3 linked regions of the Homo sapiens genome follow. The main gene of each other region encodes a partner of the protein of the gene in region 2 in a complex. Each region holds a gene or a part of one and is shown on either strand. Other genes may lie near its edges.

Region 1 (7,043 bases), on a different chromosome or scaffold from region 2:
TAGTTCATGTAACTCCTAGATATCTTTGCTCATCTTTGAGCTTTGAGGCTATTTTGGTTTTTCCTGATTTGTTCATACTATCAAGTCTTTTATAACCTCACATAATCCTTTTCTTTATGATCAACATTCTAAATTGAATGAGGAACTGACTGTCCAGAGCAACACAAACTGTTTAGTGTTATCAGCATTTATATTCTTAAATTTGCTTATTTGATTTAATTTACCATTGCATAAGTTCCAAGTAATTGTGAATTGCCTTGAGTTTTAAAGATTAAAATATAATGGAAACAATACTTTGGGAACATCTGTTAGATTTCAGAAAATCCCTTCATGATGCTCATTTAATTGATTTTCCGAGTCCCCATCTTAACCATTTGCTGTGGGAGGCTAGTGATTACCGGTTCTAACATTGGAAGTTTTCTCTTTATAGTAATTTCTACATGAGAAATTTTGAAATAATAATTTAAATAGTTTACCATGGTACTCATCTCCAAAACTCTTCAACTCCACCTTCTTAATAACTTTATCCAGTGCTTTTCCCTCACGTCCATCTATGTGGACTAGATTTCTAATCTATGAATTTAATTTAAATTGAAAATTTTCATTTCTCTTATTCATGTTGTTGGAAACCACACTGCTGATTGGAATTGTTTTTCTTTCTGCTCTTAGGCCAGATCTTTTAAAAGTAGAAATTAGGGTGAAGTGTATTCACTCAGTACATATTAAAAATTTCTTAAATCAGTTTAATCCTATTAAATCTGCTATTGAGTTTGTAATTCCACTCATAGAAAAATCGCTGCTTAAATCTCATATTAGGACAGTATCAGATTTTGAAGTCAGCATGAATCTAGTCTAATATATGTGAATTTTCTCTTTATCTTGTTTGTCCCTGAAACTGGCTTTTTCCAGATAGAATTCTAGGAAACAAACGGAATTAAAATGACATTTTTAGTTTAATATTCCTATTATTGATGGTACTGCTTAATTTTCATTGATATGTTTTAGGCTTTATGTTAATAAGACAATAATTTAATGATTTTTATGTGACAGGCACCTATGGGGACCTGCTGGGGTGATATCTCAGAAAATGTGAGAGTAGAAGTTCCCAATACAGACTGCAGCCTACCTACCAAAGTCTTCTGGATTGCTGGAATTGTAAAATTAGCAGGTGAAAAGCATGAATAATAGTTTAGTAGAAAATGCAGAGATCCTTGTAACCTTTCGTAAAAAAAGCATGTTTATAAATTTTGCAAGTATTGCCAAATAAAAAATATGTTATGATATAGGGCAGGGGTTGGCAAATTGTTTTCTGTGAAAAGCCAAACAAATATTTTCAACTTTGCAGGCCATATGATCTCTGTCACAGCTATCCGTCTCTATCATTATAGCATGAAAGCACCCTTAGCAATACATAAACAAATGGACATGATTGTGTTCCAGTAGAACTTTATTTACAGGAAATTTGAATTTCATATAATAGTTATGTATCATGAAATATCCTTTTTTTCTTTTCAACCATTAAAAATGTAAAAGTAATTCTTAGATCACAGCCATAAAAATAATCCAGCAATAGACCAGATATATAGGCCATAATGTATATGTTACTTTGAAAAGTAACAAAAGTTGAGGTACTAAAAAAAGTGGTAAGAGCTGGCCACAGTGACTCATGCCTGTAATCCCAGCTTTTAGGGAGGCAGAGGCGGGAGGTTAGCTTGAGCCTAGGAGTTCAAGACCCACCTGGGCAAAATAGCGAGACCCATTCTCCATTTTAAAAAAATAAAAATAAAGTGGTAAGAACCTTAATACCAAATTGATACAAGTGTTGATAATTTTATATATCTTGGGTTCTTCCGTTCTGTTTATTCCCACTGCCTCCACCATACCAAGCCCTTTACTGCTCATGAAGTAAACATGTTAGGAATCTACTATGGTAGACAATGTGGACAAAAGATGATATCCAGAAGTATAAGACTTGTATTTTTTCCAGCATGTTCACATCGGCCAAATGTTGACTACTACCAGGTATTAATATGACAAGATACTCAGTGAGTAGTGTAGTAGGGCATTGTGGAGGAGAGGCAGGCAGCCACTCATAAGAAAAGTTATCTTCAATTACTACTGTGACAGATTTTTAACTCCTCCCACTCTCTCTAGTTTTATTTCCGGCATTCTCCTCAAAACACACTGTAGACTGCTCTGTTGTGTACTGCTAATTGACTTAATTTACCTAAAAATTATTTTAATTTTATTTTTCTGTTCAAGCATCTTTTATGGCCTCTTTGTACTTAAAGGATCAAGATAGCCAGCATTTATGACTATTGATGAGTTGCACCATATACCACATGCCAGATGTATTGTAGTTCTCCAGCATAAATGATCTGTTGTGATGAGGCCAGTCTCCCTCTCCCTTTCATACAGCACGTTTTTGTCACCTCTGTGCCTTGGGTTACTCTTGCAAGAGTGTCCCATCTCTGTACTGAACTGTACTACTACCCAAGTCAATTCCCCATCTTTTTCTTGAAACATTTTCCCAGCTGTATAAGCATTCACTAAATGCTTGTATTATTCTCTACACTGTAATTTAAAACAACAGCATATTATTTTTGCCCTGGGTGTTTAAGTTAGTTACATTTAAATAGCTCTTAAGATCAGTGCATTTACTATCCAAAAATTACTTCTGCCTTCCATCTCCGATTTTACATTTCTGTTTTATCTAACTGCATCATGTATCTTCTTTTAAGCCACTTTAATGCCATTGTAGAAGTGAGCCTAATGTTAACCAGAAGCTAGAGTTCAGCAGTAATTAGCAAACTCATAAATTGTTCTGAGAAATTATTGAATTTTAAAACTGAACATTTAAGGCTATAAATTTTCACAAACATGAAAATGCTGACTAAACTTGTCTCCTAACCTGAAATACACATATATTGGCCTTTTTCTGTTTCATTAAAGGCCTTAAATTAAATCGTAATCTTTTATCAACATAAAGTTTATAGAATTATAAATAGGATATATTACATATTTTTTGTACTTTCCAAGAGTAAGCCTTCCTATTTGCCTAAGACATAGTTTTTAACTCATTTTACATAATTTTCTTTGTGTTTATTGAACTTTTTACCTGGCATATTCAAATCTTATTTCCAAATACATACGACAGAAAAATTTAGATTCTTAAAGTAGCCACATTCAAATTACCCAGGAGTAATTGGCCACCTAAGCAGCTGGATAAAGCAATTTCTTTGAAATACATTTCAAGGCCAAGCACAGTGGCTCATGCCTGTAATCCCAGCCCTTTGGGAGGCCAAGGCGGGCAGATCACCTGAGGTTGAGAGTTCGAGACTAGCCTGGCCAACATGGTGAAACCCCATCTCTACAAAATACAAAAATTAGCTGGGCATGGTGGCGCACGCCTGTAATCCCAGCTACTCAAGAGGCTGAGGCAGGTGAATCACTTGAACCCAGGAGGCAGAGGTTGCAGTGAGCCAAGATCACACCACTGCACTCCAGCCTGGGCGATAGAGCAAGACCCTGTCTTCATAAAATATATATATATATATAATTATATATAATATAAATAAATATATAATATGTATTTTTATATGTTTATATGCTTATACATAAATATGTATGTTATATGTATAATTACATATATATGCCTATAATCCCAGCTACTTAGGAGGCTGAGGTAGGAGAATCGCTTGAACCCAGGAGGCCAAGGTTGTAGTAAGGCAAGATTGCACCACTGCACTCCAGCCTAGGCAACAGAGCAAGACTCCATCTCAAAAAAGAAAAGAAAAAGAAATTATGGGTACAATTGAAATACATGTAAGGATGCCATGCTCTGAAAACAGTTGAACTGTTTGCACTGAACAGATGGTTCTCAAAGTTTGGTTCATAGACCAGCAGCAACAGCATCACCTGAGGACTTGTTAAAAAGGCATATTCTCAGTTCCCACCCAAGATCTACAAAATCAGAATCTCTGGAGTGAGACCCAGCCATCTGTCTGTTAACAAACCCTGCAGGTGATTGTATTGCAGATAGACACTAGTTTGACAACTGCTATCAGATGCTGTATTGTTTTATTTAATTTTATTTTCTTATTATGTAGTGATTTATTTCTGGGTTTCAGGTTACAATGCCCTTTTAAGATATGAAGGATTTGAAAATGACTCTGGTCTGGACTTCTGGTGCAATATATGTGGTTCTGATATCCATCCAGTTGGTTGGTGTGCAGCCAGCGGAAAACCTCTTGTTCCTCCTAGAAGTAAGTAGTTTATTTACCCTTACCGTAATTTTTTTATATGTGTACTTTAATGCTATTTTACACATAGTAATGTTAGAGTAATATGGAAATTAAAGGCCGGGCATGGCCGCTCACACCTGTAATCCCAGCACTTTGGGAGGCCAAGGCAGTCGGATCACTTGAGGTCAGGAGTTTGAGACCAGCCTGACCAACATGGCAAAACCCCATCTCAACTTCTCCCTAGCTGGGCATGGTGGTGCATGCCTGTACTCAGGAGGCTGAGGCAGAAGAATCGCTTGAACCGGGGAGATGGAGGTTGCAGTGAGCCAAGATCACGCCACTGCACTCCAGCCTGGGCAACAGAGCGAGACTCCATCTCAAAAAAAAAGAAAGAAATTAAAATAGTTTTTTTGGTGTTAAGCAGCTTTTTGCTGGCAAGGCATATACTTGCTTTCTCTATATTTGTTACTTTTCAGAATGTTAATAGCCTGACTTTGCAAGGAAATTTGTTACTTTTTTAACAAATAATTTATGAAGCAGTTCTTTTTTGCTAAAGTATAACTGATTATTTCTTCTATTTTAGCTATTCAGCATAAATATACAAACTGGAAAGCTTTTCTAGTGAAACGACTTACTGGTGCCAAAACACTGCCTCCTGATTTCTCCCAAAAGGTAAAAAACAGGATCTTATAAAGACTGAAGAGCTCTAAAAAACAAGGGTAACAGAGAACATTTTTAAGGAATTGGTTTAATTTTGTGAACCAGATGATCTGTGTTACATTTCAAGTGCATTCAGTATTTTTTACAGTATAATACAAAAATTTCTTGTAGACCTTTGTCATGAATTTCGAGCAGTTTTTTTTGTATGCTTTTAAGGTTTCAGAGAGTATGCAGTATCCTTTCAAACCTTGCATGAGAGTAGAAGTGGTTGACAAGAGGCATTTGTGTCGAACACGAGTAGCAGTGGTGGAAAGTGTAATTGGAGGAAGATTAAGACTAGTGTATGAAGAAAGCGAAGATAGAACAGATGACTTCTGGTGCCATATGCACAGCCCATTAATACATCATATTGGTTGGTCTCGAAGCATAGGTCATCGATTCAAAAGATCTGGTAAGCACCTATCACAAGAACTCCTGTCAAAAGCATCATTGAGGCTGATTATACTAGTTGGTTATTTTTCTCTGCAGAATTGCATAGATGAAAAATAGCATTCTAGTTGTTTGGGCTGCTTCTTCTACCTTAATTAGTGAAGGTTCACACCATATTAGTGTCCTAATAAATTTTTTTATATTCCTTCCACTTGTTCTCCAAAAGAAGGAACTTCTTCTGGTCACAACTATAATTGTTTCTTTCTTTTATTATTCAGCCCATTTGAAAGATCTAAAGATACCTTTCCCTTTCCATTCAATTTTAATCAAAATAGCAAGATTAAATGTGGTTAGACTTAATACTAAGCACATGAAAACATGCTTCTAAAGTTGTAATTTTCTAACTAGGGAATTACATTAAAATTATGAGCATTAAAATTGGCTGAATGTATTTAAAAGCATATATGCACATGTACTCTGAAGAGAGAAAAGACTATTAAAGAATATTCACCCCAAATGTAGAAGGCATGTCTTCTTGCCATGTTTTATAGTATGACATACTTTGTGAGTTTGAAGCCTTCAAAGAACGTGGTTTTTGGTCTTCTCACAAATGCTGACAGATTAGTGTGTAACTTTTCCTTGTAGATATTACAAAGAAACAGGATGGACATTTTGATACACCACCACATTTATTTGCTAAGGTAAGAAGTTTTTATAAGAACCCTCATTTGTAAATTAGGTTTGAAAGAGGGTTGTGGGTTTTTTCCTAAAATTACGGAAATCACAATTACATATGTTCACTTAAAAGAATTAAGACCTTGTAAATTCATAGGTGTCACAACTCTTTATTATAATTATTCTTAAATTCTATTTGTCTGAATTCTCTCTAAACCTTAATGGAAGTTTGAGTTATAATATTAGGTAGGTAGGAGAAGGCACCTGGTAAATCTTTTCACATTGGTAATATTTTAATTATCAAAATAACAACATTTGTAACAGTAGATGTGCTTTCATATAATTCTTTAGGTAAAAGAAGTAGACCAGAGTGGGGAATGGTTCAAGGAAGGAATGAAATTGGAAGCTATAGACCCATTAAATCTTTCTACAATATGTGTCGCAACCATTAGAAAGGTAAGATAATAGGTTTTAAAATATAGAAATGCAATTATAGGATTTGGGTATAAGCTAATAGAAGGAGTCCCCAAGCATATTCGTTTTGACATAAAATGTGTATGTGTATATCTTCACTGGGGAGAAGGTTGCTAGGAATTTCAAAATAAATTTGAATCCTCTGATCTTACATAGTTTATTGTCAAGATTGTCATTTTGAGTCTGCTACACTTATTTATGGAAGTATATCCTAATTTAGAGGAAAAATATTTATTTAAGTTACTTCTAGACAAGGCTAGTCCAATTCAGAATTGTAACAAGGCCAAGTTTATCTTCAGTTTCCTGTGTTTCCTCTTTAGGCCTTTTTCTTCCTTTTGGTAGTAGTTTTTGCTGCTTTTCTCTTTTCCCCCTCATCTGAAACTGCTCTTACAAAAAGACCTAGAAGAGAAATTCTTGGGTTTTTTGTTTGTTTGTTCATTTTTTTTTGAGACAGTCTCTCTCTGTCGCCTAGGTTGGAGTGCAGTAGTGTGATCACAGGCTCAAGTGACCCTCCCACTTCAGCCTTCAGAGTGGCTGGGATCACAGGTGTGTCCTATCATG
Region 2 (7,043 bases):
ACGAGGTCCCACTATGTTCCCCAGGCTGGTCTCCAACTCTTGGCCTCAAGTGATCCTCCCAGTTTAGCATCCTGAGTAGTTGGGAATACAGACCCTTGCCACCATGCTTGACTAATTTTTTGTGTTTTTTGTCACTTGTTGCCCAGGCTGGTCTTGAACTCCTGGGCTCAAGTGATCCTCCCACCTTAGCCTCCTAAAGTGCTAGGATTATAGGCGTGAGCCATCACTCCCAGCCTAGAACTATCATCATTTTACCTTTCTCGGTATCAGCCCCTCACCCCCTTTCTTTTGAATCATCCATTATGAATTTAACTCTCTTGCCACATTTATAAACAATTCAGTACTTTGCTGATTGTCATGCTTCCTAGCATTTTTTTTGTTTGTTTTTTAAATCTAATTTTTGAAGTAATATGTGGCCACCATAAAAACAAAAACACTATATAGAAAGCAATAGCAACAAAGAAATGGGTTAAAAACTTAAGTTTAAGGCCGGGCGCAGTGGCTCACGCCTGTAATCCCAGCACTTTGGGAGGCCGAGGTGGGCGGATCACAAGGTCAGGAGATTGAGACCATCCTGGCTAACACGGTGAAACCCCGTCTCTACTAAAAATACAAAAATCAGGTGTGGCGGCGTGCGCCTGTAGTCCCAGCTACTCAGGAGGCTGAGGCAGGAGAATGGTGTGAACCCAGGAGGCGGGGCTTGCAGTGATTTGAGATCGTGCCACTGCACTCCAGCCTGGGCAACAGAGCAAGACGCCATCTCAAAAAAAAAAAAAAAAAACTTGAGTTTATTTTTTGTCACACATACAGGAAGTCTAGGCAGTCCACAGCTCTCATAGCAACTTCACAGTGACATTAGAGGCTCAGGATATTCTCTTTCTGTTCCACCTTCCTCAGTGCATAGTTTATCTTCTGGTTATCTTATGGTTCACGGTGGCTGCTTGACCTTCAGCTATCACATCCTTGTTCCATGCAACAAGAAGGAAGGGGGTTGGTAAGAAAAGTCACATCTCTTCCCTTTTAACAACTTTTTTGTGATATAATTGATGTGCAGTAAACTGCACCTTTTTTTTTTTTTTGAGATGGAGTCTCTGTTGCGCAGGCTGGAGTGCAGTGGTGCAATCTTGGCTCACTGGAACCTCTGCTTCCCAGGTTCAAGTGATTCTCCCACCTCAGCCTCCCGTGTAGCTGGGACTACAGGCCTTTGCCACCATGCCTGGCTAATTTTTGTATTTTTTGGTAGAGATAGGGTTTTACCATGTTGGCCAGGCTGGTCTTGAACTCCTGACCTCAGATGATCCACCTGCCTCGGCCTCCCAAAGTGCCGGGATTACAGGCATGAGCTACGACACCCGGCCAGTGCACACATTTAGAGCATAAGACATGGTATTTTTGAAATATATATACATTTGTGAAACTATCCACAATTAAGGTAATTATTATAGTATCCATTAACAGATGAATGGGTAAAGAAAAAATATATATGTATACACACACACACACACACACACACAATGGAATACTGTTGAGCCATAAAAAAGAATTAAATCCTCCATTTGTGATTCCATGGTTGAGCCTGGAGGATAGTATGTAAAGTGAAATAAGCCAGACACATAAAGAAATACCATATGATCTCAGTTATATGTGGAATCTAGGAAAAATTATAGACCTCACAGAACTAGAGAATAGAATGGGGCTGGGTGCAATGGCTCACATCTATAATCCCAGAACTTTGGGAGGCCAAGGCAGGAGGTTGCTTGAGATCATGAATTGGAGACCAGTCTGGGCAATATGACAAAACTATAAAAAAACACAAAAATACTAGCCAGGTCTGGTGGTGTGTGCCTATAGTTCCAGCTACTCGGGAGGCTGAGGTGTGAGGATGGCTTGAGCCAGGGAGGCAACATAAGAGAAACTGTTCCCTACAAAAAAGAAAATTAGCCAGGCATGATGGTGCATCTGTGATTTCAGCTACTTGGGTGGGGCTGCAGTGGGAGGTTGCCTAAGCCTCAGAGGTGGAAGCAACAGCAAGCCATGATTGTGCCACTGCACTGAAGTCTGGGTGACAAAGTGAGATACTGTCTAAACAAAAACAATGTGTGTTTTGTATGTGTGTGTGTGTGTGTGTATACACATCACATATATTTGTATATGTATATAAATTGAGCTCATTTTTAAACAAAACAGGTAAACTGGTTTGAAATAGAATCTAATCTGTATATTTCCTCACATTTTTATTAGATAAATAGTGTTAAGAATCTTTTTTTTTTTTTGAGATGGAGTCTCACTGTGTCACCCAGGTTGGAATGCAGTGGCACGATCTCGGCTCACTGCAACCTCCACCTCCTGGATTTAAGTGATTGTCCTGGCTCAGCCTCCCGAGTAGCTGGGATTAAAGGTGCACGCCACCATGCCTGGCTAATTTTTGTATTTTTAGTAGAGGTGGGGTTTCACCACATTGGCCAGGCTGGTCTCAAACTCCTCATCTCAAGCAGTCTGCCCTCCTCGACCTCCCGAAGTGTTGGGATTACAGGCGTGAGTCACCACGCCCAGCCATAGAAAAATAGTATAAGAATACTTGAGTAAAAGTTTTAAATTTTATTATTTTATCAGCAGATACTAAGTCATAAGATTCAAAATTATATGCAGTGTCTTCCTCCCGTTACTATCCCCCGTCTACTAGTGTTAGCAGTTTCTTGTGTCTCTCCAGCAAAATTTTATGTGAGCAAATATTTTCTTTTTCCCCTTCATCCCCCTCATTTTCTAACACAAATGATTATATACTATATATGCTGTTCTTTTTTTTTTGAATGGCGGAGGGGGTGGTCTTACTCTGTCACCCAGGCTGGAGTGCAGTGGCGCGATTTGGGCTCACTGCAGCCTCTTGACTTCCTGGGCTCAAGGGATCCTCCTACCTCAGCTGCCCAAGTAGCTGGGACCACAGGCCGCAGGTACGCACCACCATACCTTGTCGATTTTTTTTTTTTTTTTTTTTTTTTTTTTTTGTAGGGATGGGATCTCCTCGGGTGGCTTGAACTCCTGGGCTTGAGCTGTCCTCCCACCTCTGCCTCCCAGAGTGCTGGGATTACAGGCACGGTCCATTGCACACCTCGCATTCATTGGCTTTTTTTTTTTTTTTTTTTTTTTTTGAGATGGAGTCTCACTCTGTCCCCAGGCTGGAGTGCGGTGGTGAGATCTCGGCCCACTGTGACCTCCGCCTCCTGTGTTCAAGAGATTCTCCTGCCTCAGCCTCCCGAGTAGCTGGGACTACAGGTGCATGCCACCATGCCCAACTAATTTTTGTATTTTTAGTAGAGACGGGGTTTCACCATGTTGGCCAGGTTGGTATTGATCTCCTGACCTTGTGATCCACCCGTCTTGGCCTCCCAAAGTGCTGGGATTACAGGCGTGAGCCACCGCGCCTGGCCATTCGCATCTTTTTTATTCCAAAGTTTGAACTCCAAGCCTTGCACTCTCAGCATACCTCTCCTATTGTTTTCTGCTTGGTGTGTAATAAAGCTTTCCTCATTTTGTAGGGTATCAGTTAGCAGAGCAATCAAGCCCTTTGCAGAACCTGGCCGCCCTCCAGACTGGTTCTCTCAAAAAGTAAGTTCCCAAGCAAGGGCTCTTTTAGAGCAGTCTTTGGGTTGTAAAGTAGGTTCTCTACCAGGCCCTGACTTTTAGTTACAAAGCTTTTATACCATGATGTGGGAAAATAGTTGAGAATACCTTTTTCTTTTTCCTACTGTTTGCTAATCCATCCATGTATGATCATATTAGACCTTTCTTATTGGTGTTGCATAACAGTTAAGAGCCCAAGCTTGGGAATTAGATCTGGGTTCATTATTACTCCATCTAAAAACTTTGGGCCATGATCCTCTGTTTTTTCATTTGTAAAATAGAGATAAAAGAGTTGCTTCAGGATTGTTGTGAAGCTAATTGAAGTAATACATGTAAAACATTTAACACAGTGCCTTGCATGTAGTAACTACTTGGTAGATATTAGCTATAAATATTGGCAGTTAGGTTGCCTTTCCGCAAATGCACAAACTCCAGTCCATAAGACTGTCTTTTTCTGTGTCTTGTTTTGATTATTTTGAACTGATTTGATTATAAAGTTACTTGCCCTCCTAGTAAACCACTCCCGTCTTACATATAGTTCTCTTCTCTAAATCTTACTCTAATCTCTTGAAACTTTGAAAGGTCATTTCTTTCCAGCCTTGCTCATCACATTTTCACTTTTTTTTTTTTTTTTAATAGCATTGTGCTTCCCAGTACTCGGAGCTTTTAGAGACCACTGAGACACCAAAGTGAGTACAAAGCCAGGTACTTCAGCCATATTTCTTTAGTGGAGAGTATTTACTGAGGAATTCTGGTTTATACTTAGTTATGATACTGGATGATTAAAAAATAGCAGAAGTTATCTATGATTAAGTGGTAAAAGCAAGTAGGAGAGGGGATAAATGTTATGTTATTTGAATATGAATTTTTTTTTTTCAATTTTCCACAGACGGAAACGAGGTGAAAAGGGAGAAGTGGTGGAAACTGTTGAAGATGTTATTGTTCGGAAATTGACTGCTGAGCGAGTTGAAGAACTAAAGAAAGTGATAAAGGAAACCCAGGAGAGATATAGGTACTTATCAGAGAGAATGCCAAAAAATTGAGAAAGACATAAGGGACTGTCTTCTGGTACTGGTCAGAACTTTTAAAATAGCAGATTAAAAAACCCAGTCTACCTACCTCTCTTTCTTCCTATAGACGGCTAAAGAGAGATGCAGAACTAATTCAAGCTGGACACATGGACAGCAGACTGGATGAGCTTTGCAATGACATTGCAACGTGGGTTATATTATATTGTTCTTCTGTGCTTCTTTCTTTTTACCCTCTTTTCCCCTCAAGTAATCTGGCTTATTTCCTCCAATTGCCGTCCCTTTAGACTTGAGACAGATTCTGGAAGGGGAAAGCTGCAAAGTGGTTTGGTGGCTGGGAGGGGGGAGTGAGTCCTAGAAGGTAATATAATGGGACATTTCAGTATGAAAACATAACTTAGTTCTAACTTAAGAGTGGCTATAGTTTGCCTGGGTGAAGAACTGGGAGTTAGGCAGTATACCCCAATTCACTGTTTTGCTGGTTAGAATTCCTGTTTAGGCCTTTCTTCCAGAAAGTGCTGGCCTGGCAAAAAAAATTACTTTGTAAGGGTTCTGTGAACTCTGGGGAGGAGCCAGAGCTGTCTAGCATCTAACCCTTAATTCCCTGTTTAGGAAAAAGAAATTGGAAGAAGAGGAGGCTGAAGTAAAGAGGAAGGCTACAGATGCTGCATACCAGGGTAAGCTGAACCTAGTATGCCTCTTTAGCAATTGATTGCACAGTACTGCATGCTAATGACAGTTGGACTGTTTTGTAACATAGAATACATTGATTTAAATTTACTTGCAGTTTTCTCTTCTACCAGAATAAAAACATCCCTTAATGTCTTAAGAAGAAACTCCTAGAACATGCGTTGTGCTCAGATCTCACTAGACCTTAAATTAACTTCAGGACACAAAGGCTTGATGAGATATTGAACATAATGTTTTAGAAGTCAAGGGCCTGTGAAAAGATTGAGAATAGCTCAGTCATTAGATGAGGAGAAATTTAAGCATTTACAACTCTAGGAATACATGCTGTGCGCCAGTGAGGTCTTTCCCTGTTTTTGTTTTTTGTTTTTCCCCCAGGCGGAGTTTTGCTCTTGCTGCACAGGCTGGAGTGCAGTGGCGCGATCTTGGGTCACTGCAACCTCCGCCTCGCGGGTTCAAGTGATTCTCCTGCCTCAGCCTCCCGAGTAGCTGGCATTACAGGCGGCTGCCACCACACCTAGCTAATTTTTGTATTTTTAGTAGAGATGGGGTTTCGCAGGCTGGTCTCAAACTCCTGACCTCAGGTGATCCACCTGCCTTGGCCTCCCAAAGTGCTGGGATTACAGCCGTGAGCCACTGCACCTGGCCTTCCTGTTCTTAAAAGCAGAATATTAGTAAGTTGCTAAAGAGAATATTAAAGGATGTTTAAACTACTTTCCCACTCCAAGGACCTTTGGGATAATTAAGTAGTTTGAGATTGTTAAAGGAGTTTCTTAGTGTGAGAATTGCCCTTAGGAAAAATTAGGCTAAAAAGTTATCCATCTCTAGAAGTGTTAAAGCTTTCTAATCCAAACTTATTATGCTGCTTTAGTAATGCAACATACCTATTTGTCCTTTATTGTATAATAGCAGACTAGTGTCAAGTTTCATTTATTTAATCTTGAAGATTTGGACATTGTTCTCTTTTATGTTCTAGCTCGTCAAGCAGTAAAAACACCCCCCCGGAGGTTACCCACTGTGATGGTTCGCTCTCCTATAGATTCTGCCTCCCCAGGAGGTGATTATCCACTTGGGGACTTGACTCCAACCACTATGGAAGAGGCTACCTCTGGGGTGAGTATATTTCCATCTGTGGGAATTGATCAGTGAAGGGGCAATAAGCCGGCAGAGCTGAGCGATGAGGAAACCACTTTTGGCCTAGAGGCAACTTCCTCTCTTGATCTGAATGCTAAAGACTTAATTTACCATGTTCTGTGCTCTGAGATAAGAACGGACCTAAAAGCATTGAGGCTTTTGACCTTTTTGAGAGATAGGTAAAAAACTATTTTAAGAAATTGTTTCATACTAGTCTTATGAAATTCCTGCTGAAATAAGGGACAAAATCCTTGTAAATGTAATATTGGTAGTGGGTAAGGAGTTCATAAAAGGCAGGTTGGGTGGGATGGTTGAGTCACTGTGGGTTTGAGTGGATGAAAGAGAAGATTGTGGGGAAGAAAAGTATGGCTAAGAGCAGGAGGGATAGAGGGTTTCTGGGCAATTCCACTCAGGACTAATAAAATAATAGTTAGACACACTAACCCATACAGATTAGTAGGGAACCTTCCATAGTTTGAGAAGTCAGATAAAGGTTCTCTGTTGTCTCTTAGGTAACCCCCGGGACTTTGCCGAGTACCCCAGTCACCTCGTTTCCTGGGATTCCTGACACCC
Region 3 (2,983 bases), on a different chromosome or scaffold from region 2:
AGGCACCAAAAGGCAAATGGTACTGTCCACAGTGCACTGCTGCAATGAAGAGAAGAGGCAGCAGACACAAATAAAGGTGGTCCTTTTGTTTGATGAAGAAATAAACTTCAGCTGAAGATTTTATATAGGACTTTAAAAAGAAGAGAAGAGAAAGAAGAAACAATGCATTTCCAGGCAACCACTTAAAGGATTTACATAGACAATCCTATAAGATCTTGAACTTGAATTTTATGGGTTGTATTTTAATAATGTAAGTAAATTATTTATGCACTCCTGGTGTGCTATGAATATTATTCCAGTTAGCCTTGGATTATTTCAGTGGCCAACATATGCAGACATTTGTACTCCTCAACCATTTTCTCAAAGTAATGGGCATTCTATGATTTAGACTTCAAGGAATTCCAATGATGAAGATTTTAAGGAAAGTATTTTATATTCAACAGGTATATTCTGCTGCATGTACTGTACTCCAGAGCTGTTATGTAACACTGTATATAAATGGTTGCAAAAAAAAAAAAAAGTCAGTGCTTCTAAAAAGAATTTAAGATAATGGTTTTTAAAATGCCTTTATAATAAGCTTTGTTTCTTTGTGAAACTAATTCAGCAGGCTGAAGGAAATGGTTCATGTGATAATGTGGGCTGGTATCCTCTAGAGTACCTGGGTACATAAACAGAAACTCCTGTAGGTAAAAAGTAATTTGTGCCATTAGTCTTTCTATGTTTCTGCATCCAGATAGAGTGCAGTTCATGAGGGAGGGGGCGGGGGACTGAAGGGGAAAGGGCGTTAAAGTGATACATTTTTATACCAAATGTGTTTATTTTTTTGTGCAAGTAATCCTTAAAATTGCAATTGTATTAGGTGTTAAAATAAAGTTTTTAAAAAATTACTTGTATTTATACTTTACATACTTAATAATGAAAATTTCTGAATTCCAATTAACTTTCAACTTTCATAATCTAAAAAGAATCAGAGACCCAGGACACAGAATACTGTGTAATCTGTGATGTCTTTAATGATGTTTAGAGTTTGTGATATAAGAATACAGGAAAGACATTTTTAATGTAAATTTGAAATGCCAATGTATTTTTTTAAGAACATCATCTGGCTTTTCCTTCAGTCTAAAAGACATGAAAGAAGTGTAAGTATAGCAGTTAAAACGAAAATAATGGTTATGGGTGTTTTGACTGGAGGCAATGTAGCCAAATAGAGTAAAGAGACCCCCCTGGTCGGGAGCTCCAAATTGAGCTATTTTTGATTCTACCACTTACTGATATGACAGTTAATTCAAATTTTGTATCACTCTGGGCCTTACTACACCAGGGTGATGCTGACTGCAGAATAGATCTTATTCTAAGGTGCTATTTAAATTATAAATTTGCATAGTGGAGGTTTTATTTAAAGTATAATATTGAGTCTGGTCGATAGAAAAATCCTTAACTTTTAAGATACTTAATATATCATATATATTTTATATTGAAACTTACTGGGTCCATCAGATTTCTGCTTTAATTAAACCACTTATGAGCTTCTTAGAACTTATTCAGATAACAGTGTAAAATCTATGCAGTGCTACCCAAAGGGTGTGAGGTAGATAGGGGATTTCAAAGATCTCTTCCACCTTTGAGATCCCATGATTCTGAGCTGCCACAGTCTGATTATACAACTCTACCAGCTCCCTAAACAAGTTAGGTTCATTTGTGAGTACTCATCATTTCATAATATCATGATTATCACGATTTCATGATACTCAATATTTTGAGATTTTATAACCCTTTAAGAAGTGATAAATAATGTAGTATTCAATTCGTTTATCAAAGTATATTGCCTGGAAATGCTCACATGTATCATTTACATCCTCTATATATTATGACTATTCCAAACTCATTCATTTTATAGAAATGGTCAAAGGAAAAAGCCTTATGTACAGCCTTATTTGAAGAGAAAGTTCTTTGTCTGAGTCAGGAACATCCTGTTATCCAGCTGCTACATCCCCTTTCAGTGTGAATTCCACTCCTTACCAAATCACTTAGAAAACACTTTGACAAGTTTTAAACTCAAACACTGAATATTTTATGAAGCATGTGTAAAGAAAGAAACCAAAATTTGGTGCAGGTATTTAGTAATGGGTAGAACCTGTTAATATCTGAGTCATATATAATGGGGCCAAACATGGAACTACCTCATCAACCCCCCAAAAATGTGGCCAACTATTAATATTCTTTGTGACATTTACACCAAGGGGCATAGTAAGTATTTTTGGTATTATAAAATACACATTCAAAATCTCTGTTGTACAAAACTCATGTAACAGTTGGGACAAAATATCCAAATGTGGGTTCACAGTTCACAGGTGGTGAAAATTGAGGCCTTACTGCTATGGAGTGTATATCAAAATGTTCATGGTGACACATTTGAAGCAATAAATGGCTTAATTAAATGCCAAAATGAGGCTGAGTGTTTGATAAGCATACAATCATTCTTTTCAAGGGCAGTTTATATTTTTTTGTTCTCTTCTCCTTTAAAGCAAATTCCACGTTTTAGGTTTTTAACCATCTTAGGTTTGTGCAATATTAGTGCCCTTTGTCTTTAGACTTTAGGAATGGTCTTATTGACCTAATTAATTATTTTAATCTTATGCAAATAAATGTCTAACAAACTTGGGTTATAAAGGGGTATAAGATACTCCTTAATGTGTAGACATTGCAATGGTTTCCCCTCAGCTCTCACAGATAAAAATACATTTATTTTTTAGCAGATGGGTTTTAAGAGAAAAAAAGACCCTTAAAAATATTCTTTAACTTTACAAATACTAAGCACCTAGATTCTGAGAATATACAGATGAAGGTATTATATGTGTGTGTGGGGGGAGTTGGTGGGGGCAGACATGTTAAATGTGTTATCTTGATGAATGCTGTAATGGATACACAAAGCACTGGGAGAACACTGGGAGGCAGGGAAATTGATTACTGAAATAGTCAAGAA

Evidence for each region. Proteins that work in one complex are often made in the same cells at the same time.
Region 1: BRD8 (region 2) and MBTD1 share a complex: the UniProt entries of both Homo sapiens proteins name them as parts of the nuA4 histone acetyltransferase complex.
Region 3: BRD8 (region 2) and ING3 share a complex: the UniProt entries of both Homo sapiens proteins name them as parts of the SWR1-like complex.

The regions. Positions count from the first base shown.
Region 1 is NC_000017.11:51,201,013-51,208,055, reverse strand, and holds part of MBTD1 (MBT domain-containing protein 1), read left to right. Parts: intron 1-1,050; coding exon 1,051-1,168; intron 1,169-4,130; coding exon 4,131-4,265; intron 4,266-4,827; coding exon 4,828-4,916; intron 4,917-5,120; coding exon 5,121-5,355; intron 5,356-5,978; coding exon 5,979-6,034; intron 6,035-6,359; coding exon 6,360-6,464; intron 6,465-7,043. UniProt on the Homo sapiens protein: Chromatin reader component of the NuA4 histone acetyltransferase complex, a multiprotein complex involved in transcriptional activation of select genes principally by acetylation of nucleosomal histones H4 and H2A.
Region 2 is NC_000005.10:138,168,628-138,175,670, reverse strand, and holds part of BRD8 (bromodomain-containing protein 8), read left to right. Parts: intron 1-3,536; coding exon 3,537-3,606; intron 3,607-4,260; coding exon 4,261-4,310; intron 4,311-4,510; coding exon 4,511-4,633; intron 4,634-4,758; coding exon 4,759-4,839; intron 4,840-5,261; coding exon 5,262-5,326; intron 5,327-6,312; coding exon 6,313-6,449; intron 6,450-6,982; coding exon of another isoform or gene 6,983-7,043. UniProt on the Homo sapiens protein: May act as a coactivator during transcriptional activation by hormone-activated nuclear receptors (NR). Isoform 2 stimulates transcriptional activation by AR/DHTR, ESR1/NR3A1, RXRA/NR2B1 and THRB/ERBA2.
Region 3 is NC_000007.14:120,974,771-120,977,753, forward strand, and holds the end of ING3 (inhibitor of growth protein 3), read left to right. Parts: coding exon 1-74; 3' UTR 75-2,446; downstream 2,447-2,983. UniProt on the Homo sapiens protein: Component of the NuA4 histone acetyltransferase (HAT) complex which is involved in transcriptional activation of select genes principally by acetylation of nucleosomal histones H4 and H2A.